Linked DNA regions of Homo sapiens: regions 2, 3 and 4 are each linked to region 1. The links come from fine-mapping of genetic effects on gene expression. A gene starts in region 1. Each other region holds a variant in brackets. All regions are shown on one strand. Distances are from middle to middle.

What was found. PIP is the estimated chance that this variant, and not a neighbour inherited with it, causes the effect.
Region 2: its variant is the best candidate, but not a certain one, in a credible set for the expression of ECHS1 in blood mononuclear cells (TOPMed, PIP 0.76).
Region 3: its variant is the best candidate, but not a certain one, in a credible set for the expression of ECHS1 in whole blood (INTERVAL, PIP 0.82).
Region 4: its variant is the best candidate, but not a certain one, in a credible set for the expression of ECHS1 in whole blood (TOPMed, PIP 0.67).

Annotation. Positions count from the first base shown.
Region 1 is chr10:133,369,375-133,377,374 of GRCh38, forward strand. It overlaps ECHS1 (enoyl-CoA hydratase, short chain 1), which reads right to left and starts at 3,980. Exons shown (of 8, transcript NM_004092.4): 1 at 3,872-3,980; 2 at 1,186-1,383; 3 at 530-657. The coding sequence starts at 3,959. It overlaps MIR3944 (microRNA 3944), which reads right to left and starts at 2,289; the gene lies at 2,182-2,289. It overlaps LOC124902563 (a long non-coding RNA gene), which reads right to left. Exons shown (of 2, transcript XR_007062395.1): 1 at 7,286-8,000; 2 at 5,362-5,832. RefSeq lists a silencer at 3,743-4,252 and an enhancer at 4,634-4,723.
Region 2 is chr10:133,282,230-133,290,229 of GRCh38, forward strand. TUBGCP2 (tubulin gamma complex component 2) reads right to left here. Exons shown (of 18, transcript NM_006659.4): 9 at 7,595-7,740; 10 at 6,611-6,791; 11 at 5,900-6,080; 12 at 3,227-3,399; 13 at 2,856-2,984; 14 at 1,653-1,773; 15 at 849-992; 16 at 1-113. Among named protein-coding and RNA genes, the nearest start is that of ADAM8, 9.4 kb to the left of the region's middle. The variant G/A (reference allele first, on the strand shown) is at 4,266.
Region 3 is chr10:133,346,850-133,354,849 of GRCh38, forward strand. ZNF511-PRAP1 (ZNF511-PRAP1 readthrough) reads left to right here. Exons shown (of 9, transcript NM_001396060.1): 6 at 3,246-3,312; 7 at 4,532-4,584; 8 at 5,158-5,291; 9 at 5,398-5,834. The coding sequence ends at 5,591. PRAP1 (proline rich acidic protein 1) reads left to right here and starts at 524. Exons shown (of 5, transcript NM_145202.5): 1 at 524-576; 2 at 3,246-3,312; 3 at 4,532-4,584; 4 at 5,158-5,291; 5 at 5,398-5,834. The coding sequence starts at 569. The coding sequence ends at 5,591. It also overlaps a transcript of FUOM not described here. RefSeq lists enhancers at 1-549, 550-1,209, 1,210-1,869. The variant G/T (reference allele first, on the strand shown) is at 4,244.
Region 4 is chr10:133,259,045-133,267,044 of GRCh38, forward strand. It overlaps ADAM8 (ADAM metallopeptidase domain 8), which reads right to left. Exons shown (of 23, transcript NM_001109.5): 22 at 4,644-4,721; 23 at 3,379-4,189. The coding sequence ends at 4,112. Among named protein-coding and RNA genes, the nearest start is that of ADAM8, 14 kb to the right of the region's middle. RefSeq lists enhancers at 292-341, 3,280-4,256 and a silencer at 2,634-2,963. The variant A/C (reference allele first, on the strand shown) is at 3,591.

The DNA of each region.
Region 1 (8,000 bases):
AGTGTCATGAAATGATCACAATCCGCAGACCCCTGGTTTACACGGCAGGGAGCGTCATGAAATGATCACAATCCGCAGACCCCTGGCTTACACGGCAGGGAGCGTCATGAAATGATCACAATCCGCAGACCCCTGGCTTACACGGCAGGGAGCGTCATGAAATGATCACATTGCCTTCCCTATAGGCCAAGATCAGTCTCAGCACTTCAAATAGTCCCAGGACACAGAGCTTTCAAGGGGAGCAAAAGAAGCTAGTTTATAGATGTAGCCAAAGCCAACACCTCTCTTCCCCCACCCTGGAAGAGAGGCTTGCTGGGGAGAAGCTGTCAGGTGAACAGCCACGAAAAAAGCAGATGCCAGGAGGTGTCCTCTCCACACAGTTCCTGGCTCTTTAGCACCATGAGGCAGGAAAGGAGGCTGCTGGCCTGGGAACTAAAGGCCTCTTCAAAATAAAAATCTGTTATGCTGTGTATGCACAGCACGGTTCCTTCAACCACGAGAGGAGGAGACTCTTGGCAGCAACACTCACGGCATAGCCATTGACAGCAGCGATGACTGGCTTCTTGACCTGGGTGAGGTGGTCCCAGTGCTTCAAGAACTTGCTGGAGTAACAGTCCTGGAAACTCAGGTTCTGCATTTCCTTGATATCAGCTCCAGCTAGCAGGAGTGGAAAGGAGGTTCCAGTTACCAGAGAGCAGAGAGCCCACCCATCCTATATCTCTCAGACCAACAAGGAACTTCAGAGCACACCAGACACAGGCAGTGGGGTTGCTGGGCACGGCTGACACCAGGCCACGTGGACAGCTGTAGGGACGCTGTAATGCCAGCTAGAACAGAAGTCACGCAGAGGGGCCCTGAGGCAGGCAGCAGGTGCAAGGGAGGCGCCCACAGAGGCTAGGCATATTTGTCAGGGCATAAGCCCTTGACACACACAAAGCCTGACTGCCAAGGACCTAAACCCCTTTGAAGAAGCTGTTTTGCTGGTGGAGCACATGCAGCTCTCTGGCATACACAAAGCTGCTCATGCAAGCCGTTCCCATGACCGTCTTCACTCGATATTTGAGGAAGTCCCCAGTCGCATGCCTCTGCCATCACAGAGGCGCAAATCTGTCTGGAGGCTTCTCCCAAGGCCATACGTGCCTCCCACATCTGCCCAGACACAAAGGCCTCTGCTGCCGCGCGTACCTGCAAAGGCCTTATCCCCGCCGGTGAGGACAATGGCCCCCACGGCCGGGTCCTCCTCGAAGGTCTTCAGGGCCTGGTTGAGCTCGTCAATCAGGCCATCGCAAAGTGCATTGAGGGCCTTGGGGCGGTTCAGTTGGATCAACCCCACGGTGTTATTCTTCCCTCTTTTTTCTGCGATGATGTACTCAAAGTTAGCACCTGGAGCAAGAAGGCAAAAAGGGGTATCTATTCACACAGGTATCAAACTGGGGAGAGTGGGGGAAGGGATGTGGCCCCATCGGTGGATACAGTGTGACCCCAAGAGGCCCTCTGAGGGCTCCCTGCCGAGTCCTCAGTGGCTCCAGGTGTAGCTCTCAGCCACAAGGATAGATGGTAGCCTTGGTACCATTCTCTCTGCTTTCACATGTGTTTGAACATGTCCTAAAGAAAATCCCCGGGCCGGGCGCGGTGGCTCACGCCTGTAATCCCAGCAATTTGGGAGGCCGAAGCGGTCGAATCACAAGGTCAGGAGATCGAGACCATCCTGGCTAACACGGTGAAACGCCGTCTCTACCTAAAATACAAAAAATTAGTCGGGTGTTGTGGCGGGCGCCTGTAGTCCCAGCTACTGGGGAGGCTGAGGCAGGAGAGTGGCATGAACCCAGGAGGTGGAGCTTGCAGTGAGCTGAGATCATGCCACTGCACTCCAGCCTGGGTGACAGAGTGAGACTCCGTCTCAAAAAAAAAGAAAAGAAAAAAAGAAAAATCCCCAGCACAGAACACAGCCCACAGCCGCTTTCCTTCTCCTAATATGCCTTGGTCAGCTCTTCCCAGGACACCACTCTGGAGACAGCCCTGGACTCTGCTGAGACAAGGCACCAGGAAACACCTTCTTTCAACAAATGCCAACAGGTGAGGGGGTGTAAGGCAGCTCCTTGCACTTGGTACCGCCCCAGTGCCAAGACCTCTGGCCAACTGGACGCAGGGTGGGGGATGTGAAAATCCTGGGTGTTCCTGCAGCATTAAGATCAGGCACAGGTCCGGAGCAGCAGGCCAGCCCGAAAATGGGAGACGCAGGCGCTTCTCGGTTGGCCTGCTGCACAGGACCTGCGCCTGCTGGGTGGACAGCAAGGTGGGAAGGAGACAAAGGACAATGGCGTTCCAGGGGTGAGAAGGTGAACCTGAAAAGACAAAGGTAGCCTGTGTGTTGGATGCTTGCCTCCGTTAGTGGCAGAGCAGGGATCATAGTCCCTGTGCTATGGGTTTCTTTTTTTTGGAGACCGAGTCTCACTCTATTGCCCAGGCTGGAGTGCAGTGGCGCAATCTTGGCTCACTGCGACCTCTGCCTACAGGGTTCAGGTGATTCTCCTGCCTCAGCCTCCCGAGTAGCTGGGACTACGGTCACACACCACCACACCTGGCTAATTTTTGTATTTTTAGTAGACATGGGGTTTCACCATGTTGGCCAAGGTGGTCTTGATGACCTCAGGTGATCCACCTGCCTCAGCCTCCCAAAGTGCTGGGATTATAGGCATTAGCCACTGTGCCCCGCCGTATCCTGTGGGTTTCTAGGGGTAACTGGAAGATCACAGGTGAAGTGTCTGGCAGCAGTGCCCGCCATGCAAGATCCAGGAAAGGGCTGCTGTCAGGGTGGAGAAGCCGAAGGCCAAGGAGAGCATGGAGATGAAACCAACACAACTCAGTGGTCCACTGCTACACAGGGTGAGGGAGGAAGAGGAAGCAAGAGTTCTTCCCCAGCCCAAGGCATGGCCCAAGATTCCTCAGATACTAGAGCCGGTGATGGCCGCTCATGAGTGGGGCCCCGGGTGAGCCACGAGGGAGGAAGAGGGCAGCCCCCTGTGGCTGGGGAGGAGGTGTCAGCTTTTCCCTTAGGACCCTCTGAGGGGTGGCCCTGGTCAGGAGGCACCCAGGACAAAATGCACCTGCATCTCCTGTTCTCGGGCTGGCCGGCTGCACAGGAGCTACGCCTGCTCTTAGAGCCGAGGGAACACCCCGGATTTTTACAACCCCCACCCTGCGCCCAGTTGGCCAGAGGTCTTGGCACTGGGGCAGTACCAGCCAGCCGCCGGGCCTCCCGCAGGACGTGGCCTGGTGAGAGTGGCCTCCTGCAGAGCCAGGCAGGGGGTGGGGGTGCGGGCCAGGGTCAGGTGGGTGGTGTCGGTGCGGGGTGGCGGGTGGTGGGGGGGTGTTAAGCCTGGGTCAGGCTGTGGGTGCGGGTCAGGTGGGGGGTGCAGCACTAGGCGAGGGGGGTGTTGCAGGCCTGAGCCAGGCAGGGGCTGCGGGTCGGGGTCAGGTGGTAGGTGCGGGGTCAGGCAGGAGAGTGCGGAGTCAGGCCCTGGGGATGCGGGATCGGACGGAAGAGGGGTGCGGGGTCAGGCCGGGGGGTGCGGGGTCAGGTGGGGGGGTGCGGGGTCAGGCGGAGTGGGGTGCGGGTAGGGGTCAGGCCGGAGGGTGCGGGGTCAGGTGGGGGGGTGCGGGGTCAGGCGGGGGGGTGCGGGGTCAGGCGGAGTGGGGTGCGGGTAGGGGTCAGGTGAGGGTGCGGGGTCAGGCGGAAGAGGGGTGTGGGTTGGGGTCAGGTGGGGGATGCGGGGTCAGGTGGGAGGGGGGTGCGGTCTGGGATCTGGTCTGGGCGTGCAGGTCGGAGTCAGGAGGAGATTCGGGCCGCCAGCTCTCACCGCGCACTCACCCGAGGCGAAGGGACGCCAGGCGGGACAGCGAACCGGGGGCCTCAGCGGGCCGCGGACGCAGGACAGCAGGACACGCAGGGCGGCCATGGCTCTCTGGACTCCTCGCCCGGCCCCGCGGAGCCGCCCCCTCGCCTATAGCCTTTCAGGGCTCGCTCCGCCCACAGGCCAGCGCCGCGAGACCAGGCGGCCCTCGCGAGATCAGCCCGGGCAGAGTGAGCGGGTCGCTCTCCGCCAGGCCCCGCCCCCAGGCCCGAGCTGCCGCTCGCGGATCTAAGGCCGAGGGGCGTCCCCGGGACCCCGCCCTGGGCTGGGACCAGCGCCCTCCAGGCCCCGCCGCAGTCGCCCGCGCCCCCGCCCCCGCCCCAGCCCTCGGGGTCCCAGCTGGCCCCGGGGAGACCGCGCGGAGGCGGAGGCAACGGCGGCGCCTGCCGGGCTCTGCGCCGCCTCCCCCCGCCCGCCTGCCCGCCTGCCCGCCTGCCCGCCTGCCCGCCTGCCCGCCTGCCCGCCTGCCCGCCGGCGTCTGTAGCAGCGGACACAGCGCGCCCAGGCGCAGGGCCAGGCACGGTGGCAGCGGCGTGGGCACTGAACGCCACATTAGGAGGAGTTTTATTTTCATGCACACAAGACTTCAACAGATTTAAATAATAAAAATTTCATTCATTTAAGTTATTTTATTTATACCTTTTAAATATCTAGACAAGTATTGTGGAGCATCCATTTGTGTACTTGCCCGGATTCTGCAAACGCCAGGGTGGAGATAAAACCACCCTGGATAAAATGGAATGGAAAGCGAAACTGCTATTGTGACCGGTGGAGGGTGTCCAGGTTCTTGACGTCTTGAACAAAGAACTGGACAAAACGCACAAACAAAGCACGGAAAGAAGGAAGCAACAAAAGCGAGATTTATGGAAAACAAAAGTGTGGCCGGGCGCGGTGGCTCAGGCCTGTAATCCCAGCACTTTGGGAGGCCAAGGCGGGCAGATCACCTGACGTCAGGAGTTTGAGACCAGCCTGGGCAACATGGTGAAACCCCCCTCTCTACTAAAAACACAAAAATTAGCCGGGCGTGGTGGTGCACGCCTGTGGTCTTAGCTACTCGGGAGGCTGACGCAGGAGAATTGCTTGAATCCGGGAGGCGGAGGTTGCAGTGAGCCGAGATCGCACCACTGCCCTCCAGCCTGGGCGATAGAGCCAGACTTCGTCTCAAAAAAGAAACAAGAAAAGACAACGAAAATAACTCCACACTGTGGGAGCGGCTGAGCATAGCGGCTCAAGAGCCCCGTTACAGATTTTTTGGGGGGGTTAAATACCCTCTAGAGGTTTCCATTGGTTACTTGGTGTACGCCCTGTGTAAATGGAGAGGACACTTCTTGTCATAGCGGAAGTGTTTCCATTTGATTTAGTTCTAGGGAGTCAGCATGAATTGGCCTCCAGACCCTGTTCTCCTGCCTCACTATGTTCAAGAAAATAATTCAATTCAAACCAAAAATGAACATGCACCAAAATTTTATTTCAAGACCGAGGGTAAAAATGAAGACATCTCGTGTAAGTAGAAACAAATCAACAACAAACCTCAACAAACCTTTAGTAAACGATGCTCTATACTAGTGTAGTTAAACCTCTGGGACAGACAGGCCCAAAATGAAATGGCTCAGACAGAAAAGAGGTTTATTTCCTTCCTTCCTTCTCCTTCACCTTCTCTTCTTTCCTTTCTTTCTTGTCTCGCTGTCACCCAGGCTGGAGTGCAGTGGTGTCATCCCGGCTCATCATAGCTTGCGCCTCCCGGGTTCAAGCGATTCTCCTGCCTCAGCCTCCTGAGTAGCTGGAACTACGGGTGCTTACCACCATGCCCGGCTAATATTTGTAGTTTTTTAGTAGAGTCGGGAGTTTTGCCATGTTGGCCAGGCTGTTCTCGAACTCCTGACCTCAAGTGATCCACCGGTCTCGGCCTCGCAAAGTGCTGGAATTACAGGAGTGGACCACCGTGTCCGCCAAGAGGTTTCCTTTCTAACGACCCAGGAGGCCGGGCAGCTCCCGTCCTCCATCAAGTAATGTAGCCACAAAAGCACAAGCAACAAAGGGAGAACATATGTAAATTGGATTTCACCAAAATTTAAAACTTTTATGTCTGAAAGGACACTACCAAGATAGTGAGAGGACTGAACAGACATTCCTCCAATGAAGATAATCAGTGTCAGATAAGCTCAGCATCACGAATCATTAGGGAAATGCAAACTGACCCCTCAGTGATACGACGTCACACCTACTGTGCTGGCTGCAATAAAAAGCCCAACAGTCACAGCGGGTTGTGGGGGACGTGAGCGGGGAACGCTGGTACACTGCCAGCGGGAATGGAAAATGGTGCAGTCACTTTGGAAAACAGTCTGTTGTTTCCTCAAAAGGTCAAACAGCAACTCCACTCTTAGGTGTACACCTCAGAGAAATGAAGACAAATGTCCACAAAAACTTAGACATGAACGTTCATAGCAACATTATTCATAATAGCCAAAAAGAGGGAAAAAGCCAATTGTCCATCAACTCATGAATGGATAAACAAAATGTCATATATCCAAACAATGGATACATTAGAATGTATTAGACTATACAATGGACTCTATTCAGGAGTAAAAAAGAAAGAAGCGCTGATACACATTACAAAATGGACAAGCCTTGGAAATGTTATGCTCAGTAAAAAAAGCCAGACACAAAGGCCGTGCATTGAATAGGTTCCATTTCTATGAAATGTACAGAACAGGCAAATCCACAGAGACAGAAACTAGATTAGCGGTCACCAGGGGCTGGAGGGAGGGGTAATGGGGGGGACTGCTGAGGGGCATCCCCATTTGCTTTTTAGGGTGATGAAAATGTCCTAAACTTGGGGCCAGGCGCAGTGGTTCACGCCTGTAATCCCAGCACTTTGGGAGGCCAAGGCAGGTGGATCACCTGAGGTCAGGTGTTCGAGACCAGCCTGGTCCAACATGGTGAAACTCCGTCTCTACTAAAAATACAAAAATTAGCCGGGCGTAGTGGCACATGCCTATAATCCCAGCTACTCAGGAGGCTGAGGCAGGAGAATTGCTTGAACTTGGAAGGCAGAGGTTGCAGTGAGCCAAGGTAGTGTCACTGCACTCCAGCCTGGGCAACAGAGCAAGACTCCATCTCAAAAAAACAAAACAAAACAAAAAAGTTCTAAACTGGATGATGGTGACAGTGGCACAACTCTGTAACTAAACTGAACACCATTGAATTGAACACTTTAAACGGGAGAAGTCTTACAGCATGATGTCTATATCAATAAAGCTATTTTAAAAAATGAACAAGCCTGATTCAGTCAAAGCCACATGGGTAGTTGCCACCTTGATCACCATAGGTGGCATCACCCAAGGCCCTCTGGAGCTAGGAGAAGCACATACCTTGTACCAGTCAGATGGAAAAGAGGTTGTGTCCGTGTGTTCCAGCTGGTGGCTCTGGCATGGCAGGATTGTCCAGGACTGGCCGTGGTCACGTGCACTCTCCATTTCAGAGCAAGGGGGACGAGCGACTAACCCAGCCCCAGGTCAGCGCGTCAGCGGCCCGTGCTATTGGATTCAGGCTGTGGCACCACATCCAGGGGACAAAGAGCGCGTCGGTTGTCCCCACCCTGCAGCTCTTGGGTCCATGTCTTCTCTCTCCGCGCCATAAAGCCAGAGTTCCCATTTCAGTCACTACAATCACCCCTCCTTGCACCAGGCCTTCCAGGTGTGGGGCATGGGCATGTTTACCTCTGGCCTGTGTGGACCGCTGTGGGGAGGCTTGGCCAGCAAGTTGCTGAGCCAAGTATCTTTTATGGGATCCTGCCGCTCCACAGGAGGATCCGGGAGGCTGAACTAGAGTTAAGTTAGAATCTTTCGGTTCCCCTTCGGGCTGGGCTCCCCGCAGGAACCAGGAACGGGCTGGCCAGGAGGACATGATGGACCGGGAGAAGGTGACAGAGGCAAAGCCAGACCCTTCCTGTTCCATCTTGCAGAGGCTGTCCCAACGCGAGGTGAGGCCAGGTGCCTGGGGGACATCGATGCCTGACCAGAGCCCAGCCTGGACAGCCTTCCAGCAAAGGCTGGGCACTGGCCGACCGTAACGGCCCAGGAGAAT
Region 2 (8,000 bases), 87 kb before region 1:
GCGAGCTCCTTCCGGGCCCGCTCCTCGGCCCCTGCGGGCAGCCCCAGGACGGTGCTGTGCTCCAGCGTCTGCCCGCCCAGCTCGCCATCTAATTTCATGCTCTGTGTAAATTTCTAGGGGGGGAGAGTCGCAAGGAAATGCTTCTGTTAGTTACAACCACAATGCTTTGCAGAAAAAACAAGTCCTGCAGGCACGTCACCCTCCGCACCTCTGTTGTAGCCTGCGGCTGGGGGTACACAAGCATCTCTGAGGCTGCAGGGGAAATGACTTATCTGTGCCGACAGAATTCCCAGGTCTACCTTCCACGGTGACCAGCTGATTTTCCTGAGAACAGTTATTTTGGTGTTTCCCTATTTGGGACCCTGAAGTGGCCATGCCCTCCTCCACCTCCCCACTCGCCCTCCTCCGGACCCTCCCCATGGCACTGCCTGGAGAGCCTCATTCTCAGACCCCTGCTTCTGCCACTAGACACGCAGGTTCTGCACCATCGCCAGTCGGCAGCTGCTTGTGACTAGTGCCTGCAGGTCCTTAACGGAATCAAATAGCTCAAGTGCTGAGGAAAAGAGCATGCAAGGGCCATAAGCAAAGGCCCCGGACAGAGACCAGCACCACAGAGGCTGAGGGATGGTTCGGGAGGAACACAGCCCTGCCCACGCTGCCAGGGCAGGGGCTCCAGGAGGGAATCACCCGGCCAGGAAGACCAGGAGTTCTGGAAACACTCAGATCCCAGCGGCTCCTCCACGAACACAAGGGCAGGAAAACGTGAGCAGGCTGCGTGCGGCCACGGTCGGGACATGGTCTGCCCACCCGCGCCTGCCCACCCGATGGTGCTACCCACACCCACGCACCTGCATGCAGTTGGTGAACATGACGCACACAGACATGAGCTTGGAGAAGACCTTCAGCAGCTCGGGGTTGGTGAGCATGCAGTCCTTCAGGCAGGTGTCCAGGAAGCCTGTGTGGTGGCCAAGGACGTCGTCAATGTTGGAGGCCTGCGGGGAACAGGCCAAGCCCCTTCTCAGAAAGACGTGGCTGACAGACGGGCCCTGCATGCGCACGTGCTCAGTTCTGGCTTTGTGCATTCCTGTTTACGCACTTCTACCTCTTAAATGGGCCTTGGGCTTTTAGGGGAAAACTTCCAAACACCACTAAAAAAATGATGGGCACACCCCGAAGGGGTTTCATTTCTTAAGGCAGAAGACAGGAAGGGAGGCTGCGGCAGCTTCTGGAATTTGGTACCAACAGATTCTGCCTTCAGGCCCCTCAGCCTCAGATGCGCAATGTGGGAGAGACAACCTCGGGGCAAAGACGGCTCAGAGTCCCCCTAGGACGGCAGGCAGCAAGGGGTCCCGTGTGTGGCCAGCAGTGTGGGTGCAGCCCCGCCCTGGGGGATCCCTTCCTCTCCCCTTGCCCTGCCTCTCCTGCACTCCGTGTCTCCCTGCACTCCCTGCCTCTCCCGCATTCCCTGCCTCTCCCGCACGCCCTGCCTCTCCCGCACTCCCTGCCTCTCCTGCACTCCCTGCGTCTCCCTGCATTCCCTGCCTCTCCTGCACTCCCTGCCTCTCCCCTCGCCCTGCCTCTCCTGCACTTCCTGTCTCCCTGTGAAAGGAAAGTGGCTTTCAAACGTTATTATCTGTGGAGCTAAAACTCACGGATTTCAGGTTTTTCTCCAGGATGTGCCAGGTCGGTTCCATCACTTCAAACATCATGTAGTATTGAATATTCTGGACGAAGTTGAGCATTCGCTGCCGCAGAGTGAAAGCCCCAGCAAACCTGAGTGACACGGAGGACGGAGGACAGCCATGGAGGACGCGGCCCCGACAGCGCCCACCAAGTGACACGGAGGACGGAGGACAGCCATGGAGGACGTTCTCTGGACGTGGCTATTTCCTCTGCAGAGCAAGCGCCCCTCCCAGCACACCAGACACTCACGGCCGCTGCTCCTGCGTCTGCCCAGCACAAGCTGTCACCGTCTACCAACCTGTGCCCTGCAGGGACACCCCCAGCCAGCTGGACGGTGGAGACTGGGACGCGGGCTCCTTGGTGGACGGACCCCTCGGAGCCCACGCCAGGAAAGTGCCACACAACAGATGCATATTTGTGCTTCATCATCAAGATGAGTTCTTTTTCTTCTAATTTCTTTTTTTCTTCGAGAGACAGGGTCTTGCTGTCGCTCAGACTGCAGTGCAGTGGCACGATCTTGGCTCACTGCAGCCTTGACCTCCTGGACTCAAGCAACCCTCCCACCTCAGCCTCCTGAGTTGCTGGAACTACAGGCATTCCCGGCTAATTAAAATAATTTTCTTTTTTTTTAAGAGATGAGCTCTTGTTACATTGTCCAGGCGGGTCTCGAACTTGTGGGCTCAAACAATCCTCCCTCCTCAGCTTCCCAAAGTGCTGAGATTACAGGCATGAGCCACTGCACCCGACTGGACAAATTCTTATGAAGCTCTGCCATCGACCCCTTTTTTCAACACCCTAGAGGCACAGACCGGCTGCAAAGCACCTCTGGTCCCAGCAAGATGTGGCTGTCCGCTCTCGGGAGGAGCTAGTGTCCTGCACACCGACCTGGGCAGTCTCCATGCCCGTGCAGTCACCACAAGGCTCCAGAGAGGGCTGAGGGACAGAGCCAGCATCCCCTGTGGGGTGGACGGCAGCGCCGTGCAGCCCCAAGACAGGAAAATGAAGCAATGAAGCATTATGGATCTAAAGCCACCAACGTGCGCTTCCAGATGACACTTCCAGAAGCCTAGAAAGCTGTCTACCAGGAGGGCACAAGGGGGGCGCTGCACCACTGGGCAGAGTGCAGCGAGCGCTGCTTCAGGAGGGCATGCGGGGGCAGAGGAAGAACGCACCACTGGGCGGAGTGCAGCGAGTGCTGCTTGGCGGTTTTGTTGCTGATCCAGACGCTGCAGAGCTGCCGCTCCACGTGCTTGCAGTAGAACATGTGCCTGAAGAGCATCTGGTAGCGAGTGAGGGCTTTCCTGCAAGAGACGTGGCGGCACCTCAGGTGGGCCTCCGTGACCGGCGGCGTCGTGGACACGGCGTCTGTACTCCACAGTCCGCACCGTGGCCCCCGGACAGCCCGTGAATCTCTCGGACACTGAAGGCCGGGGAGAGCCGCCTTGGGTCCTCTGTGGGACGAGGTGGCCACCGCGTGGCACAGTTCTCGCTTCTGCCAAACCTGAGTGAAGATCTGGCAGGTGCCCGAGCAGCCGACCCGCACCTGTTGATGATGAGCGAAAGGGGCCACTTGACGATGTAGTCGAAAGAGAAGGCCTCCAGGCCGCTCAGCGCCAGCTCCGTGGGGTCGGCGTGCGCCATCGCCTTCTCCTGCTTGGTCTCGATGGCCAGGACGCGCAAGAGCTGAGTGATGAGGTCATGGGGCATCAGGTCGATCTTGGAGGGAAGGAAATGAAACAAAGCATCCAGTTTTAAGGAAAAGACCCGAAGTCGCATCCCGATCGCCATCCTCGCTCACAGACCCAGCGCTGACGTAAGGTTCCCTACATTCCGATTCTAAATATCAGAGGCTTTTCAAAAACCCAAACATCTACTGATAAATCAAATTCAAAACTGAACCACTTCCCATCAGAACAAAACAACAAAAATTCAGATGAATTACTTTGTAAATACCCACTGCTGCTGTGGGTGGTATAAGGGAAAAACCGCTAAGGACGGTGAAAGAAACGTGATTCCTTAGGACGAAAACCTTTGTACCATGATAAGCACCAGGCCCAGGTTGAAAAATGAAGCATATTTGACGAGGGACATAATAGTTATTATAAGCAAGTAATACTGTCCTCACGTTAATCACTCGAGTATTTGCTAAGTTCCAACCACCCGCAACAGAGTTCCTACAAAACCATCGCACAACGACAGGACAGGAAATGAAGGGCAGGGGATAAAGCAAGAAGAAACAAGCAGCGGACAGACGAAATCGTGACCATCACAAACGCAGAAATGAGCCCCTGACATCACTTGTCCATCAAATAGCCAAGGTGGGAGCTTTCGCAGGTGTGCAGACAGCAGCGTCCTGAGACTGGACTCCATCAACTCCAGCAAGGTCAGCCTAGTCATACAAGGGCCATGTATTGTGACCCAACAATTTCACTACCAGGAATTTTTCCTACGAAAATATTCCTGCTCCTAACAAGAGACCCCAAAATATCTGAATCAAGAATAGACAGAATGACAAGGAGAAAAGCAGTTCTTCAGTGACAGGGAGACTCGGTGCCCTACTTCTAACCACGGAGAGAACCGCC[G/A]GACAGACGATCAGTGAGGAAAGACACGGCCTCAACCCACCTGCAGAACACCACCCCAACAGCACCGAGGGCGCGTCCTCCTCCCGCGCGCACGGAACCGAGGGCACATCCTCCTCCCGCGCGCACGGAACACTCTCCAGGATGGATGTGGGGCCACTACACAAATCAATACATTTCACAAAACTGAAATCACAAAAAGTCTGTTCTCTAACAAGGAGATAAAGTTAGAAACAAGCAACAGAAGGAAAACCAGAAACTTCACAAACATGTGGAAGTTAAACATAAACCACCCACGGCTCCAACAAGAAATCAGAGGGAATCAGAAACACCTCCAGACAAACAGAAATTATGACGCTAGGGGATCAGCGAAGGCTGCACTCGGAGGGATGTTTACAGCTGTAAACTAACTTTTCAAATTAAGAAACTAGAAAAAAGAAGACCACACTGAACCCCTAAGCAGCAGACAGGAGTAACAAAGATGACAGAAGAGAGAAAACAGAAAAATACAGTCAACAAACCCAAGAGTTGGTTCTTTGAAAAGATAATGAAATCGACAAATTTCTAGCTACATCAGCTAAGACGAAAGAAGATTCAAATTACTAAAATCAGAAAAAGAAGGGATATAACTACTAATCTTACAGAAATAAAAAGCAGATACTAGAAACCCATGAACTGTGCACCAGACAAGATGCGAGACAGACAGCCGACCAAGAGGAAAGGGACTGAGCAGACCTGTGGCCAGCAAGGGGCCAAGTCCCCCTCAAAAGTCTCCAACAAAGACAAACCCAGGGCCCAAGAGCTCCCAGGCAAACCCTGCCAAACAGCCAAAGAATCAACACCCTCCTGGGGAGGCGCAGGTGAAGGATCGCTTGAGCCCAGGGGTTCAACCAGCCTGGGCAACACAGACCCCCGTCTCTATTAAAAATAGTAAAAAACAGATAAAACATATATATATTTTAAAAAACGGCTGGGCACGGTGGCTCATGCCTGTAATCCCAGCACTTTGGGAGGCCAAGGTGGGTGGATCACCTGAGGTCAAGAGTTCAAGACCAGCCTGGGAAACATGGTGAAACCCCATCTCTACTAAAAATACAAAAATTAGCTGGGCGTGGTGGCGCGCACCTGTAATCCCAGCTACTCGGGAGGCTGAGGTAGAGCATCACTTGAACCCAGGAGGTGGAGGCTGCAGTGAGCTGAGATCATGCCACTGCACTCCAGCCTGGGTGACAAGAGCAAAACTCCGTCTCAAAAAAAAAAACAAAAAACAACGACAACAAAAAGGCAAAAACAAAAAGAATTAACACCACTCCTGAAACCCTTTCAAAAGACCTGAAACCCTTTCAAAAGACAGATGGAGGGACACGTGAAAACAATTCCACAAGGCCAGCATGACCTGAAAGCCAGGCCCGGACGAGGGCACTGCAGGAAAACCCGAGACCCGCGCCCCTCCAGAGCACAGGCACAAAGACCCCCGATCCCGGCAAGCCGGCCCCGGTAGCCAAGTGAAGGAAACAGACCCTGCGGTCGCCTCACCGGGACGGGGAGTGGGGGACAGGGCTGGCCTCTGCTGTGCTCTCCTCCCAGCCCCTCCGAGGCCTCTGCCACAGGGGACAGCCCCCGGCACCCCCACCCACCTTGAGGTCGTCCTTGAAGGGGTCAGTGTTGGCCGTGCTCATGCGCAGCGCCAGCTCCAGGAGCGCTTCCAGGCGAGGGGGCGTGATGTCCTCCACCGGCTTCCGGAGCTCCTCCTCCGCGAGGTCCATGAAGTGCACGAAGAAGTCGCCCTGGTCCATGAGGAAGTAGCGCTTGATGGACCTGCGCCAGGGAGCAGGCGTGAGCAGGTGCCCACCCGCAGGTGCCCGCCACAGCCAGGGAGCAGGCGTGAGCACGTGCCCACCCGCAGGTGCCCGCCACAGCCAGGGAGCAGGCGTGAGCACGTGCCCACCCGCAGGTGCCCGCCACGGCCAGGGAGCAGGCGTGAGCACGTGCCCACCCACAGATGCTCGCCATAGCCATCACCCTAAAACACACTACAACAGGCTAAGCGCTTGGCTCTCAGGCAGGGGCTGTGCAACCACCACGCAAGCTGTGGCAGGAGGAGCTGAGAAGGGGCTGGTGGGCCCTGGGCAAGGAGGGGAGCTGGGGCCCCTGGACAAGGTGACCGGGGGCCTACACCACCCACTGTGAGTGCCAGGTCCTTGAGCTAGAGACCATCCAGCAGTGCCCACTTTCAAAAAGACAAGGCGGAGCTGCCAGAAGAAACCCAGCGATCTCAGCCCCACGTCCCACAGGTTCCGGTTTCAGAGGGAGGTGAGTGCCCGCACAGGGACAGGGCACGGAATCACCTGAGGTGAGCCACCAGCTCCTTCTCCTCCATCAGGAAGTCCAGCAGCACCTTGCTGGCGTAGTTAAACGCCTTCTCGATCTGCTCCACATACGCCCGCTCTTTTAACGTGTAGATGATCTCTTTAGCCACCGGGCAGGTGACGTCATGGCCACACTCTCTGACCACATTTAGATATTTTCCTGAAAACACAGAAATTCAAAATTTTATTCTCCACATGGTCGATCTCAGGCCCCAGCTGTCTTTGTCTACACAGGAGGCAGTGGAATGGACATTGAATGGGCTCTCCACACGGTCAGTCTGAGGCCCCAGCTGTCTTTGTCTACACAGAAGGCAGTGGAATGGAAACTGGGCTGCATGAGGCGGCTCCACACCCTTGCTCCTTCCCGGTAAATCACTGTCAGCGGCTACAGACTGAGCTGGTGGTGGCAGGGCTTTGCCGTGGCTCTGCACATCTGGAATTTTCTAACCAAGGGCACAGAAATAATTTCGAACAGGCATTATGAGAACCGGATGGCTAATCGCTTCCCAACCCTTTCGTGACGGCCCCGATGTGCCGAGTCCAAGTCCCCGCGCCACTGCCCTGGGTCCAGGTCAGGCCCTAACCTGTGTGGTCAGAGATAGGAAACACTGCCGGCCGCCAGGCGTGTGTCTTTGCTGGTTTTTCCTGACATGCTAGCGGAGTTTTAGAAATCAGAAACAGAAATAGAGAAGGCACCTGTGAGAGAGCCTCGCAGGGTCAGGGACAGAGTCCCGGAGATGGAAACCTGAGGGAACCTGGCAACAGAGACCATCTCAAGGCCTAACTCAGCGCCGCAGCCCAGCCCACGGGCCAGTCCTGACCTCAGCCCCGCATTCACGGACACCAGGGCTCAGGGCAACCACAGGGTGAGGCACAGGCTCCCGGTGGGAGGGCCTGGGCTGCAGGAGACTCTCCAGGCAGAGCTGTGCTGCGCACCCCAAGTCCCCGCCCGCTGCGCCGCACCTGTGCTGAGGATCTTGTCCGCCATTTTCTGCAGGAAGGACGGGATCTGCTGCTGGACGATGGTGTACCGCTGGTCCCAGTACTTGTCGTTGTAATCCTCCTGGATCCTCTCCTTCCGCAGCTCGTGCTCCTCGACCATAAACTCACTAAAACCACAGGGAGCGCTTCGGTCACAGGCAAAGCAAGGGCGCCTGAGGCAGGCGACACTTCTCCAGGCCGGCAGCGCGCAGGGACATTAACAGAGGCCAGCACACTTCCAAGTAACGTTCCACAAGGGCCGAGCCTAATCTACCAGTTACTTCTCAACTGTGGGCTAAAACGAACCTAGGGGCCGGGCACGGTGGCTCACGCCTGTAACCCCAACACTTCTCGGCTAAAACGAACCTAGGGGCCGGGCACAGTGGCT
Region 3 (8,000 bases), 23 kb before region 1:
TCTTTGTTGCCCAGGCTGGACTGCAGTGGCGCAATCTCGGCTCACTGCAACCTCCGCCTCCCAGGTTCAAGCAATTCTCCTGCCTCAGCCTCCTGAGTAGCTGGAATGACAGGAGCCCACCACCACGCCCACTTAATTTTTTTTATTTTTAGTAGAGACGGAGTTTCACTATGTTGGCCAGGCTGGTCTCAATCCCCTGACTTCAGGCAATCCACCTGCCTCAGCCTCCCAAAGTGCTGGGATTACAGGTGTGAGCCACCGCGCCCGGTCAACAAGCATGTTTTTAAAGGCAAATTTCTTCCTCAGTCGTGTGGCAGGCCCTGAGCAGGCAGCTGGGTGTCCCCGCTCAGATCCAGGCCCGAGTGGGCTGGGCGGCTGCAGAGCCAGTCACCTGAGCTACCCAGGGTGGGATCCCTGGCCCCGACCTCTGTCCTGACACGCCCCAAGCGGCAGCAACAAAGCCCCAATTGGCCTGGGCCTGGGCAGGAGGAGCTGGGCCGGGTGCCAGATACTGGGATCAGCCACTGCAGCTCCCTGAGCACTCTCTACAGAGACGCGGACCCCAGACATGAGGAGGTAATGCCACCATCCCTGAGCCCCAATCCCCACCCCACCCAAACCTGGAGGCCTGGCCCTTAGCCAGAGGGGGCCCAGCTGTGCTGCGCTCCAGGGGGCCTGGTTCAGGGGAGTGTGCGGGTGGGAGGGAGAAGGAGGGGCCCTCTGAGGGTCTGGGGTCTGCCACCAGGCTCTACCTCCTCTGTGGCCCCGAGTGCACTTGCCTCTTGGTTCCCCTGGCCTGGTGGAGAATCACCCAGGGACCCCCACCCGGAACAAGGAAAGGGGAGGTGCCAGGCTGAAACCAGCAGGCCTGTGACTGCCCAAAAGGAAGGGGGCTGGGGGAGGGGAGGGGCTGGGGCGCAGGAGCCAGGGGCTGCCCTGAGGTGGTGTCACCCTGGGAGCTGTGATCTGGAGCTCAGGGAAGCACCCGGGCTCCCGCTGGACCCTGGAATCAGAGGCTGCCTTCCTTCTGTGGGGGTGTCTGTCTTCCCCCTCCTTGTGTGGGGGACCCCTCTCCCCGCTCCTGTGGAGGTGCCCTCCTCCTCTTCCCCCTCCTCTAAGCCAGGGCCCTCCCTGCCCCTCCTCTCCTGGTGTTTCTCCCTTGTAGAGAGGTGGCTTCTGGGTAGCTTGGGGACCCTTTGGTGCCCAGAGCCGTTTGCCTGGAGAGGGGACCCACGGGGATCCCACAGCCAGGCTGCTTGGCAGTCACCACCGACCACCTTTCTAGGGGCTACCGTGACCCGAATCCCAGGCCCCCAGGCTGTGTGTCATGGGAGGTGGGCACCAGGGGTGGCCCAGGCAGCACGGCAGTGGGATTGGGGTCCAGTGCCCAGACAAGAGCCCCTGCCCAGCATCAGAACCAGCTGGGGGTCCTGAGGAGAAGCAGGGCCCCCGAACCAGACCAGACCAGGTCCCGGCCCCGGGCTGTCCGGGGCATCCCCCCTGCCCTTTGACCTCTCACCATGGCTGAGTCACCCAGAGAACGGGCAAAGGTCCCTGTGGAGCTGCAATCCAGGCCTGCAGGGTGTCCCAGACACTGATTCTTCTGCCTCAGCAGGAGTAGCTGCGATTACAGGTGTGTGCCACCACCCCCAGCTAAGTTTTGTTTTTTTTTTTTTGAGACAGAGTGTCTCGCTCTGTCGCCCAGGCTGGAGGGACTGCAGTGGCGCCATCTTGGCTCATTGAAACCTCCACCTCCCAGGTTCAAGTGATTCTCCTGCCTCAGCCTCCCAAGTAGCTGGGATTACAGGCACCTGCCACCACGCCTGGCTAATTTTTTTTTTTTTTTTTTTGTATTTTTAGTAGAGACAAGTTTTCACCATATTGGCCAGGCTGGTTTCGAATGCCTAACCTCAAGTGATCTGTTGCCTCAGCCTCCCAAAGTGCTGGGATTACAGGCGTGAGTCACCGTGCCCAGGCAGTTTCATATTTTTAGTAGAGACGGAGTTTTGCCATGTTGGCCAGGCTGGTCTCAAACTCCTGACCTCAGGTGATCTGCCCACCTCAGCCTCCCAAAGTGCTGGGATTATGGGTGTGAACCACTGCGCCTGCCCCAGACACCCTTGACTGCAGCCCTGCTGAGCCCTGTACAGACCCAGAGCCCCGCCCCACCCCAAGACCACCCCACCCTGACAGACGCAAGCCTCCCCCGCAGGGCCCTGAAGAGACAAGTCTGCACCACATCACACACGCACGCACACACAGACACACTCCCAAACCCTCACACTCTACACACCACACACGCATGCACACAGCACACACCCACCCCCAAACCCTTACGCTCCACCCCACACACAACATACATACACATCCAACACATACATGCACACACAGCACACACACACACCCAAGCCCACACACTCCACACCACACACAACATACACACACATCCACCACACACAAACACACATAACATACACACACAGCACACGCACCCCCGAACTCACACACTCCGCACCACACACAACATACACATGCACCACACACTGAAGCACACAGTGCACACACACCCGAACACGACACCACCCACAGCATACATGCACACCCACCATGCACATGGTCCACACCCACAAAACACACATGCACAGACAACATATGCACACCCCCCACCACATACACAAACACACACATCCCGTGTCCGAACTGACCTGACACCCTGCCTGCCTGCCTAATAGTGCTGCCATTCACCCCTGAGCCCCCCAGCCGTGGCCCCGCAGCTCTGGGACACAGCAGGTGCCCTGCCTGCAGCAGCGTGCAGCCTCAGGGCTCTGTGGGCGTGGGGCTGTGGGCCCTCGCTGCTCCATACCCACCCATACCCACACCCATGTGCAAGTGTGTTCATGTGTGTCCCCACGTGGAGGGCGGCACAGAGGCATGGCAGAACCTCTGGAGTTTCCAAGCCAACCACCAGTGCCTGCCACAGTGGGGTCTGCCCAGACTGTGAGGAGCAGAGTCTGGGGCTGGGGCTGTGGGCTCTGGCCTGAGGGGGGCTGGAGGCAGGTGGGCCTGGGGCTTCTCCCTGTTCTGTGCCTGCGTGTCTTGGCCCATGTGAGCACAGTCCAGTAAAACTACCTGCGCTCCCAAGGAGGAACCCAGCCCAGGCCTCCCAGCTGCCCATCAGGGTGCTGCCTGGAGTTCAGGGCGTCCCCTTCCCCTACCTCACACTTCCCTCTCTGGCCCCCCCTCAGGCTCCTCCTGGTCACCAGCCTGGTGGTTGTGCTGCTGTGGGAGGCAGGTGCAGTCCCAGCACCCAAGGTAGGTGTGAGCCCCTCCCATCTGGGCAGCAACTCCAGTTGTCACCTTCTGCCCCTACAGCAGGGGATGTGGACAAAGGGCCCCTCTTCTGGCTTCAAACCCCAAGCTGGCTTAGGGGAGAGAGGCATGGGTACGCTCATGACTCTTGATGCCTGTGCAGGCATGAGGAGGGGGCAGGCTTCCCTTCCCTGGGGTCAGATGGACAGGCCTCAAGACACCCAGGTGGTCCTAGGTGGATGATGTGGGTCCAGATGAGCCCACATGACCCCAGGTGGACGAGGTGGGTCCAGATGAGCCCCCGTGACCCCAGGTGGAGGAGGTGGGCCCGGATGACACCCACGTGGTCCCAAGTGGAACAGGTGATCCCAGATGAACCCATGTGACCCAGGTGGAGGAGGGCCCGGATGACACCCCTTGATACTCACCTGGGCCTTGAAGGCCAGAGGTGACTCCATGTGCTAGTGGCTCAGCTGCACTGTCTGTGCTGACAGTGGTGTCCTCAGCCGGGACTATGCCTGGGGACGGGCCCTGTTCCCTGGCCCATGTCAAGGCCACACAGTCTTGCACACCTGGGATGGATCGGGAGGAAGGAGGCCCACGCCTTCCTTGACTGGAGACGCAGGAGCATGGGCACAGCCCCCCCACGGTGCTGGTCCTCCCCTGGAGCCACTGGTCCTCCCCTGGGGTCACCTGCTTTGCTCTCCTGTCTGTCCTTTGCCCCACTGAGGATGGCTGGGCTCAGAGCAGCTGACAACTAAGGTTGGCTGGGCTCAGAGCAGCTGACAACTAAGGTTAGCTGGGCTCAGAGCGGCTGACCGCGTTCTCTCGGCACCAGCCAGGAAGGGGTGGTGCAGACACAGACCCAACCAGTCACTGCAGAAAACAGCCAGTGCATTGACGGCCAGGGTTGGGAGTGCTAGGTCAGGGATAC[G/T]GTGCCAGGTTACATCCCAGTCCTGTGCTGCCCCAGACCCGGCCAGAATTCCAGGCCAGCTGGTCATCTGGGCACAGGCCGGCAACCTCAATCCCGGCTTGCAATCCCAACACCCGAGAGTGGCTTGCCCACTAGAGACGCTCGAGCTGTGCTGAGCTGGCCCTGCCCCCACCCCCTGCAGCCACCTCCACCCCATGCAGCCCCAGGTGGGCCTCGGAGCAACCTCTCCCCAGGTGTCCTCCACCCGCGTGGACTGTGGCCCAGCCCACACCTGTGACTCTCCCCCAGGTCCCTATCAAGATGCAAGTCAAACACTGGCCCTCAGAGCAGGACCCAGAGAAGTAAGTCCCCCCAACCCCACCTCCCCACCACCCATTCCCTGAAGCTACAGCCCGTTCTGCTGGGCCCTTCCTGAACCTGGAGAGCACGGGGCAGATGCAGAGAGGAGCCCTGTCCAGCAGCTTTTGGAAGGAGGGGGCACTCCAGCCTCATGGGCATCTGTCAACAGCGCCCCATGCAGGGAGAAGAGAGCACAGCCGGAGGGCTTGGGGCTCCACGGTGTCTCCCTACTCAGCTTCCCCACAGCCTCCAGGGCAGCTTGTGCTCCACGGCTGGTGGCTGTAGCTGGGGCGGCTCAGTCTTGGATCCTGAGGTTCCCCACATCCTTGCCCTTGGGACACTGCTCAACCAAGGCTCTGACCACTGCTCCCCACGCAGCCACCCAGGGACGTGGTGTGGAAGCCTGGCCGGGAGCACTGGGGGCCACTCATCACTGGCTCTTGAGAGAGAGGCTTGTCCTGGGGCTGCTGGTGGTGGGGCTGGAGTGGCTGCCCTGGGATGGTGGGCACCCTCCTGCGGGGGGTTCTGTCCACCTCCCCCACCTGCATGTGGACCTGACCAAACTGTGCCAGCAGGGCCTGGGGCGCCCGTGTGGTGGAGCCTCCGGAGAAGGACGACCAGCTGGTGGTGCTGTTCCCTGTCCAGAAGCCGAAACTCTTGACCACCGAGGAGAAGCCACGAGGTCAGGGCAGGGGCCCCATCCTTCCAGGTGGGCACAAGGTCACAGCAGCAGAGTCCGCTCGTGGGGTTGACTTGGACAGACCAAGGGTCTCGGGAAAGAAACTGAGACTATACCTTCATGTGCTTGTCCCTAGGCACCAAGGCCTGGATGGAGACCGAGGACACCCTGGGCCATGTCCTGAGTCCCGAGCCCGACCATGACAGCCTGTACCACCCTCCGCCTGAGGAGGACCAGGGCGAGGAGAGGCCCCGGTTGTGGGTGATGCCAAATCACCAGGTGCTCCTGGGACCGGAGGAAGACCAAGACCACATCTACCACCCCCAGTAGGGCTCCAGGGGCCATCACTGCCCCCGCCCTGTCCCAAGGCCCAGGCTGTTGGGACTGGGACCCTCCCTACCCTGCCCCAGCTAGACAAATAAACCCCAGCAGGCCGGGCGCGGTGGCTCACCTCTGTAATCCCAGCACTTTTAGAGGCCGAGGCAGGCGGATCACCTGAAATCAGGAGTTCCAGACCAGCCTGGGCAACATGGTGAAACCCCGTCTCTACTAAAAATACAAAAATTAGCCGGGTATGGTGCCGGGTGCCTGTAATCCCAGCTACTTGAGAGGCTGAGGCAGGAGAATCGCTTGAATCTGGGAGGCGGAGGTTGCATTGAGCTGAGATCGTGCCATTGCACTCCAGGCTGGGCGACAGAGCAAGACTCCATCTCAATCGATCAATCAATCAATCAATCAACCCCTGCAAACAGGTGGGAGGCCACATGCCCCAGAAGACCGATGACCGGGGCCCAGCCTGCCCTGCCTAGGAGAATCAAGGGCTGCACAAGGCCCAGGTGACCCTTGGCTCCCAGAAGGTTGCACTACCCCCAGGCCCTCCTCCTTGTATACCGGGATGGTGAGGGGTGTGGCAGCAGTTAGGGGATGGGACCAGAGGGCACCCTGGGACCAGTCTCAGCTGAGAAACAGAACCCACCCTGGGCTCCCTACAGCAGGAGCCTGAGACAGGGTCGGGGAGGAGGGTGGCCGAGTGCCTGGGGCTCAGGGCCCAGCTGAACGGACGTGCATGTGCTCAGGTGGAAAGTGCACAGGTCTCAGGTGAGGGCGGGTAGACCCAGGCCCAGGACATGGCCTTTCTGCCCTCCTGACGTTCTGTGCAGCTCCCACTCTGGGTGCCCATCCTGTCCTCCTGGCCCAGCAGGCCCAATGCTGCAGCGCAGGTCCAGGCTGCTGGAGTCACTCACACACCGCATGTGTCCTGGGCACATGCAAATGTGGGCGGGGTTCCTGCGTGGCAGTCTCATCCCTATGGTGAGAGAGAAGCACCTGGTGCCAAGCCCGGGGCTGAGCCACACACATTTGCCAGCTCCAGCAGCTAAGACAGAACGGAGCAAGGGAGAGAGGCCACCCGTCCCTCATCCTGCCGTGTTCAGCCCTCGTGTGGCCACTCAGGGGGCTGAGGGTTTGCCCAGGTGTGGAAGAGCTCCTTGCACCGCCAGCAAATCCCCGCTCTCCCAGGACACCAACGGCTGAGAGTAACTGCCCAAGGGTGCCCCACGGTGTCCCACAATGTAAGAGCTGTTACCCTGGCTTATGGATGAGCTGGAGAGGCCAGTGACCTTTGAGGTTCTGTCCTAAAAGGGCCAGAGATGGGCTGCCAGCTTCTCCCTTGGCAGCCTCCCCTGTCATCCTGATAAGAACATGGGGTAGGAGGGCATTGAGGGATCAACACGCTCAGGGCTGAGATTTGGGCAACTCCTTCCCCACTCCCTGAGCCCCAGGCAGGTAGAAGACCCTGGATCTCTGAGTTGCAGGAGGGTCTTGCCCTAGGCAGCCCAAGCTGGTGTTTGTGGCTTTTTTTTTTTTTTTAAAGCTATCTTGATTTTATTTTGTTTTGCCCATTACTTTGTTTTTTCTCGTGATTTTACTTAGTTTGCTCATATATGGCTTCATTTATATAACATGCTAGAGAGGGCACACTAACCCCAGAGGCTCATCTGTGGGGCTGAGCCTGGGGATGGGCGAGGGTGTGTGCAACCAGCTCGTACACCGCTGATGTTAGGCCACGACGCGGCCATCGGGTCTAGAGATGAGCAGTGATTGGCCAGGCAAGTGCGAGGCCCCTGGGGCCAAGGCTGACCACTAGTGAGCACAGAGAAAGCCTTGGCTACCATCTGGGAGCAGCAGGCGGACAGGACCCCAAAGTCTGCAGCCAAGCCCAGACAGGGTCCCTTCCCCAGATTTGGAGCCACATCTCAGCCGGGGTGGGCTTGCCTGCACCCCCAAGGTTCTCCTGCGGTCTGGAGTGGGGGTCTGGAACCCTGGGACTTGCCCCCTCGAGCCCCGGGGACACCAGCCCCAGGCCCTGGGGGAAGCCCCTGTCATCCCCACTCCTGCCCTTGGTCCCTCAAACTCCAGCCCTGCCCCATCTTCTTCCTGTACCTGTCACTGCAGCAAGTTCTGGGGAGCAAGACGAGGGTCCGGACAGTGGCTGGTGGTTATTCTTCCCCATCCTTGGGGACCAGTCCAAGCATCCCATGGGCAAGCCTCCCAGGCACCCCCTTTCAGGAACCCCCTGCATCCCACCTCTGCCTGGCACTGGACTCCAAATGACCTCGTGTCCTTTACCTCCCCTGCCTGCCAGGGCAAGTGAGGCTTTCAGCGGGAGGCCACCTATGCCACAGGCATAGGGCATGGCCCACACCGAGGCCTCTCCAGCCGACAGTTCCTCCCGAAGCG
Region 4 (8,000 bases), 110 kb before region 1:
TGCCTTCTGGCTCAGGGAGGAAGCGGCTGCTTTCAGCTGCCTTCGCCTTGCCTCCTGAGGCGGCTTTGGAACCCTCCTGAGGTTTGTGGCCCTGAAGTTCCTTCCTGAGACCCCGCAGGGGACTAAGCCCTCGGCCCAGGGGCACCGGGGAGGGCAGAACCTCAAGACAGGGGCCCGGGACACAGGACAGAGTGTGTGGGGCAGGTGTGCAGGCTGTGCCCAAGGGGCCTCGGGGTTGAAGGGGCTCTTGGAGATGATGTCGACATCGCGGTTCCTGAGCGGGTGCCCAGATCTGGATGAGCTGTTTTCTGGAGAAAGCAGGAAAGTGACGTCATTTTGTGGCTTCAGATTGACCGCAGCCTGGCAGAGAGGGAGTGGTGGCAGGAAGTGAAGCTGCTGGCTTCCCAGTCACGGCCTCCATGATCCACGTGTGGCAGCAAGAATCACAGCTGCATCATGACACCCAGAGGGAAAGCAGCTCAAGCTGCAGTTTAAGGCGACTCCACGGAGGGCCCTGGCTTAGTTGTTGCACAGCATGGGGTCAGATGGATGCCCTGGAAGAGTCAGCAGAGACCCCCTGGCCTTTGGAGTTTGTCTCTGAGCGAGAGACACTGTTGGGATGACCGGCGAGTGGCGTTGGGTCCACATGGGGGCCCTGGTCCGGCTGAGTCTACTGAGCACAGGCCTGCCCCTTGCCACCCAGCTCTGCCCATATGTGGCCGTCATTCCTGGGCTTCACCTGGGAAACGTCCTTTGAGGCAGCTCAGCTTTTCCACAGTGGGTCACGTTGTTTGCTGCTGGAGACTGGCTGAGTCTGTGCTTCCAGTATAGGAAGGTTTAGGAGGCGGTCAGCAGGCCTCTCCTGTGGCCACTGTGCCCGAGGCAGGTGCCTGGGGTGAGAGGGATTCTTCCGGATGTGGCCGTGCACTGCCCAGCAGGCCTGGAGTGAACGTCTGTGTGGAGTCCGGGCTCCCATCCAGCATCCCTTAAGGGTCCTGATGGCTGGAGCTGGGGGAGGCAGGTATGGCAAGGGGCTTCCTGCACGCAGGAAAACTGGAGACCCCTGGTGAAAGAGCCAGGTGTGCACCTGCAGAGCCAGGCATGGGTCCACAGAGCCTGTCAAGCCTGGTTTACACCACAGAGCTGGGTATGCGCTGAGAACCAGGTGTGCACGGAGAGCCAGGTGTACACTGCAGAGCCGCGTGTGCACTGAGAGCAGGTGTGCGCTGAGAACCAGGTGTGCAGAGAGAGCCAGGTGTGCACGGAGAATCAGGTCTGCAGAGAGAGCCAGGTGTGCACTGAGAACCAGGTGTGCACGGAGAATCAGGTCTGCAGAGAGAGCCAGGTGTGCACTGAGAACCAAGTGTGCAGAGTCAGGTGTGCGCTGCAGAGCCGGGTGTGCACTGAGAACCAGGTGTGCAGAGAGAGTCAGGTGTGCGCTGCAGAGCCGGGTGTGCACTGAGAACCAGGTGTGCAGAGAGAGTCAGGTGTGCGCTGCAGAGCCGGGTGTGCACTGAGTCAGGTGTGCAGAGAGTCAGGTGTACACTGCAGAGCCGCGTGTGCACTGAGAGCAGGTGTGCATGGAGAGCCAGGTGTCTGTTGAGAACCAGGTGTGTGCAGAGAGCCAGGTGTGCACTGCATATCTAAGTGCTCATGTGGAGTCTTGGGCTGGGCAGGTGCTGCCCAGGACCCTGGCTCTCTGGCTGTCTTCTGTGCATTTGGGGATGGGAGAAGGGGCTCGGCTCTGGCTGGAGGGCAGCCAGGCAGACTTGCCAGCCAGCACCGCCAGGTGATAAGAGCTGGTGCCCACAGGTACTCAGCAAATGTCTGCATTTTGGGGAGGGCTGGAGAAAATGAAGGCCATGCCCTCTCTGCAAGGCTCCGCACAGGCCCTGTTTCCCAGTCCTTCAGCCACAGGGTGTCCCGGCAACAAGGGTGCCAGGTCGCCTGCACCCTGACTGTCTCCTGCGGAAAGGACAGCGCCTGCTCCTTGTCCTCCAGTAGCTGCTGGACTCCGGGGTCTGGGTGCTCTGGCGCCCGGCGGCTGGGTCCCCACTACAAGGTAGACACCAGCCTTGAATCCAACTGTCGAGGAAATGGGGTGGGCGGCGGAGGCTGGGGAGATCGGGAGGAAGGGAGGTATGGGCTTGAGAGACAGGAACCCACCCTCTGCAAGTGCAGTGGCCTGTCCCCTCCAGAACGCTCTCATTCTTCGTGCTGAAGGGAGCTGGGGGCGTGGCAGGCCTGCGAGACGAATGGGCGCTATCAGCTCAGGGCTCTGCCTCGGAGGAGCCACCCGGAGGCAGCACCCATGGGTGTGGGGGCTTGGCCACAGGGGACGTCAGGCCTCCTCGGTGCAGCACCAGATGCGTCTAACAGCCTCCGCCCCGTGGGCGCCCACTCAGACTTGCTGCTCAGGTGCCTAGAGCAGAAGCCACCTCCTCAGAGGCCAGCGCGCCAGCCTGGCACCACGGGGACGCTCCCAGGGGGTGCCCAGAGGGAACGTGCGCATCGGGCGGGGTACTGCGGCGCGTGTGGGCCGTGAGCCCCGCCCTGTAGTCGGACACTGGAGTCCCGGATCCTACAGATCTGAAAGGCTGAGTCGGATGCAGCAAAGGCGAAGCGGGGTTCGCAGCCCCAGACTCTTGGGCGGGGGGGTCAGCGAGCAACCGGGAGGGGCGCCGCGGGCCATTCGCCGCTTCTCCTGGGCCGAGGGCGCAGGCCCCTGCCGCGGGGGCCCCTCGGACTCCACGACTTCGCGGACGCGCGCCCACCGCCATAGCTGAGGTCCCGGGCCAGGCGGCGCGTGGGTGGCTGAGCGGGAGCGCGTCCAGCCAGGCGTGGAGGCCGCGCGGGGCCGGGGTCGAGCCCAGCATGGCGGGGGGGGTGCGGGGCAGTGGCCCGGACAAGGGCATGGGGCCGGAAGAGGCGGGGCCGTTGCCAGGAGACGAGACGGAATGGGCGGGGCGCGGGCGGGGGCCGTTGCCGGGAGACGAGACGGAATGGGCGGGGCGCGGGCGGGGCCGTTGCCGGGAGACGAGACGGAATGGGCGGGGCGCGGGCGGGGCCGTTGCCGGGAGACGGGGCGGGGGCGGGGCCGGGCCATTGCCCGGAGACGGGGCGGGGCAGGGGTAGCGCGGGCTCCTCCGTGCATCGCGGCGAAGTCTTCTTGGGCGTGGGTTCCTGGATCGGATCGTCTGCCCGCGGGAGGGGCGGGACTGCTTAGTTACGCTGGGGAGGGCCTGAGAAATCCAGGGAGAAAAGAAGGTGGCTTGACCTCATCTATTCGCAGTCTGCATTTTACCAAGCGCCGACCCTTGTATCTCGTGAACTGAAGCCCTCCATCCTTCCCCGCTGATCTAACAAGAATCTACAGAACTCGGTCAATAATTTATTAGTAAAATATACATTTCTCATTATTAAAGAATAAAAGCTTTCAGCCCTGCTGAACACACATCTGAGGTCTCAAGAAAACCAGACAAGATAGCTGACTCTCCCACATAGCCCTTTCCATAAAGGCGATTCCTAAGCTTAAACACACACAAAGCTGGGGCTGTCCCTCTTGAATCCCATGGGAAACAGGCCCCAAG[A/C]TCAGGGGACCTGGAGTCGGGAGCTTGGGGTGCAGTCTGCTCACTGACACCCTCTCGAAGAGCACGCAGGGGAACCTGGTCCTGGGATGGAGTCTTTCTGGGGATGCCCCACGTCTGTGCTGCCTGGAACCGGGTGCCCAGGGCAGCCGGCTCAGCAGGCCCCAGAGCAGGGGCAGGTGTGGCTGGGAGGGGCTGTATATGTGGCCTCCTGAACACAGCGGGAGACCAGCGGCCACCTGGAGACACGTACACACACACGCACCCGCAAGCACACAGCTCATCCCAGCCTGGTGCCTGCAGACAGCTGGGGCTACACGTGGCCAAGGCGGGGAGAAGGAATTGGCTGAGGGCGTGGACAGCAGGAGCCTCTCAGGTAGATGCATTCCTGAGGTTAGAACAGCAGCTGAGCCTGCAAAGTCAGGGTCTAGGGCTGAGCGGCACTAGCTGGACCGTGGAATGCTGGAACGCATGGCTTCTCTGCCGCAACTTCTCCAAATTTCCACACAGGCGCAGGTGCCCCCCTAGGGTGCTGTGGGAGCTCCGGCTCCTTGCTTCCTCTGGATGGGGGGCTTCAGGGCAACCTTTGGGCCAACAGCACCCTGGGAGGAGGAAAAGATAATTGATGTTGAAAAACTACCTGCTATAAAAGGTATATAAAGGGTACAACGAAATTTTACGTCCTTTAACATCTCTTAAAATGTGGATTCTTGGTTCATCCACCAACAACATGGCCCATGCACACAATGGCAGGTGTGGCAGTCACAATATATACAGCTCACAGAGGACAGACTTTCTTCCCTGCAGTTGCTGGGGGAAGGTCAGGCACCACTGACAGCCGGGGTCGGCATCTGCTGAGAAGTCCCCTGATCACAGCACAGATACCACAGTACAGCCACTGCCAATGCCTTTCCCTTTTCTTTCAGTCACCCAAGTTTATCCACAGATAATCAGAAAAAAACCCCACCCTCCAGGGCAGTGCCACCGTCAGCCCCGTGGGGAGGCCGTGCCGTCCATTGCACAGTGGACTCTGCCTGGTGTGTGCTGGGGCCTCACCTCAGCTGGACCAGGGTTGGCCGCACCAGCCCCGGGTTTGACTGGGGGCACTGGGGGTGCGAACGTTGGCTTGATGACCTGGGAGGAAACAGACACAGCTGACATGGGTCCCCCAGGCACTCCCGGCTCTAGCCTGGACATCACCTTCTCTGGACCTGGAACGAAGCTCCCCACAGACCTCGCTCTGCCCCCCAGGGAGCCTGCAGGCTCCGCCCCCACTGAGCTCGCTACAGAAAAGCCCTCCTGGCTGCCACTGCCCAGGAATAAAGCCCATCAGTGGCAGAACGCCATCCTGGGCCCACCTGCCCAGTACACCATCCACATCCCCTAACCAACCCCCATATTACCCTCCAAGAGCTTTTTTCCTTTCCTTTTTTTTTTTTTTTTTTTTTGAGTCAGGGTCTCCCTCTGTCACCCAGACTGGAGTGCAGTGGCGTGATGTTGGCTCACTGCAGCTTCCTCTTCCTGGGTTCAAGCGATCCTCCCGCCTCAGCCTCCTGAGTAGCTGGGACGACAGGCACAAGCCACCATACCCAGCTAATTTTTTATTTTTTGTAGAGACGGGGTCTCCCTATGTTGCCCAGGCTGGTCTTGAACTCCTGGGCTCAAGTGATCCTCCCGCCCCAGCCTCCCAAAGTGCTGGGATTACAGGCATGAGCCAATGCGCCTGGCCTGAAGAGCTCTACAGATTGCCGGAATGTGGGGTTTTGGAAGCTCAAAGGCCAATAATTAGCTACTAAAACACGTGTTTCTTTGCATTTCAGCTTTCCCAGGGTAGGGAGGCTGGATGTCCACCACACAGAGCTGTGGAGCTCACTCCTGGCTGTGTCACACGGAGCCTGGGTGGGCTAAGCATTTGCAGTTTTCAGCAGCTTCCAAAGGACCCTACTGAGCAGCCAGGGGAAGCCCGTGAGAGTGAAGAGTGAGTGACTTCCCTCCTGCACAGTTCTGCTGCAGCCTCTGCCCCATCTACTGCCACGCCTGTTCCTGCTGCAGCCTCAGCCCCATCTACTGCCACGCCTGTTCCTGCTGCAGCCTCTGCCCCATCTACCTCCACGCCCGGCTCTTGCTGCAGCCTCTGCCGCATCTACCTCCATGCCTGGTTCCTGCTGCAGCCTCTGCCCCACCTACCTCCACGCCCGGCTCCTGCTGCAGCCTCTGCCCCATCTACCTCCACGCCTGTTCCTGCTGCAGCCTCTGCCCCATCTACCTCCATGCCCAGCTCCTGCTGCAGCCTCTGCCCCATCTACCTCCACGCGCAGCTCCTGCTGCAGCCTCTGCCCCATCTACCTCCACGCCTGTTCCTGCTGCAGCCTCTGCCCCATCTACCTCCACGCCCGGCTCCTGCTGCAGCCTCTGCCCCATCTACCTCCACGCCCAGCTCCTGCTGCAGCCTCTGCCCCATCTACCTCCACGCCTGTTCCTGCTGCAGCCTCTGCCCCATCTACCTCCATGCCCAGCTCCTGCTGCAGCCTCTGCCCCATCTACCTCCACGCCCAGCTCCTGCTGCAGCCTCTGCCCCATCTACCTCCACGCCCAGCTCCTGCTGCAGCCTCTGCCCCATCTACCGCCACGCCCGGCTCCTGCTGCAGCCTCTGCCCCATCTACCACCACGCCCGGCTCCTGCTGCAGCCTCTGCCCCATATACTGCTATGCCTGGTAACCATAACTTCCTTGGCCAGAAATCTCTCTGCCCCCTTCAGGCCCCCATTTTGCCTGTCCAGACCCCTTCTAGGACTATTTCTGCAACTCACGTACAAGTCTGAAGTTAGTTCAAATAAAAAGTTAAAAAGGAAAGAGAGAAATAGAAAATCACTATTAGGGCCGGGCATGGTGGCTCACGTCTGTAATCCCAGCACTTTGGGAGGCCAAGGCAGGCAGATTACGAGGTCAAGAGATCAAGACCATCTTGGCTAACACAGTGAAACCCCGTCTCTACTGAAAAAAAAAATACAAAAATTTAGCCAGGCATGGTCGCGGGCACCTGTAGTCTCAGATACATTGGGAGGCTGAGGCAGGAGAATGGCATGAACCTGAGAGGCGGAGATTGCAGTGAGCTGAGATCGCGCCACTGCACTCCAGCCTGGGCGACAGAACGAGACTCCATCTCAAAAAAAAAAAAGAGAGAAAATCACTATTAGGCAAACAGCACAGAACAACTATTGCAGCCAATATTCACCAATGGATGCCAAAACTAGTGGGTCCAAGCTTAAGGTTCAAAGAGTCTCAAGGTATCTCCCTGAGGCATCTGCTCACTATAAAAAGAAGACAGGAGCTTTCTAAGGAAAAATCTGTGGACGCTGCTCCAACTAGGCGCTGTGTCAACATCCCCCGTGACCGAAGCTGCATGTGGGCCAGGCCTGGGCTGTGCCTGGGGAAGGGTGTGTCCAGTGCTGCCCCCGCCAACAGTGCAGGGCCCTCATCCACACAAGGAAAGACGGGACAAACCCAGGCTGAGGGACTCTGAAAACACTGCTGGCCACACTTCCAAAGGGCAAGCTGAGGAAAGGCAGAGGGGCCGGGGGCTGAGTGCCTGGGGGGACCATGGCTGGAGAAGGGCGTCCAGAGGGAGCAGGCGGTACTGACTGGGTCGCATTGGTGACGTGGAGCCTCGGCTGCGCGCCCACACTGTGGCCATTCGGGAGCAGGCCAGGCGAAGGGCATGCAGGATTCTCTAGGCTATTTTTGCAACTTTTCTGTAAGTCTAAAATTTGTTCAAAATTAAATGTTAACAAAAAAAAAGCCTCAACCCAGAGGGCAGGGGCTCTCCTGCCCCAGGTCTTCCATGCACAGCCCAGTCCTAGGGCTGACCACGAACCTCTGTGGAGGGGGTCCCCGGAGATGCACCGTGGGACCTCTTCACACAGGCACCTCCCCAGCCCCAGCCTGCCCGCCACCGTCCTGCCCTCTCTGAGGACAGAGGCTGCTCACAATGTCCCGCAATGCCAAGTGGACCTCGATGGTACCACTGGGGCCCCGTGCCAGGCCCCAGAGAGAAAGCCTGGCCCTTTCTGCTGCCCTAGCTGAGTCAGTGGCCCCAGGAAGGGAGCTCAAGGGTCCTTCTCCACCCACTGCCAGAGCGGTTTCCCAGGGCTGAGGCCAATGAGCTGCCCCCACGGGGTCCAAAAAGGGCTCCAAGGTTAGCCCAGAGGTGGGAGCCAGGGCGCAGGGACAGGACCCCAACCCTGGGGGGACACGGAGGCCTGGGAGTTAACCCTCAGCATGCCAGGGCTCCAGTGATTCGGGTTTTGAGAGATCTTTCCAAAACCCCCAAAGCCCCCAAACCCAAGGGAAGCGCGGAACGTGTCCCTGCCCTGAGCCCACCCACCCATCTGTCCTGCAGGGCCCCAGGGAGTC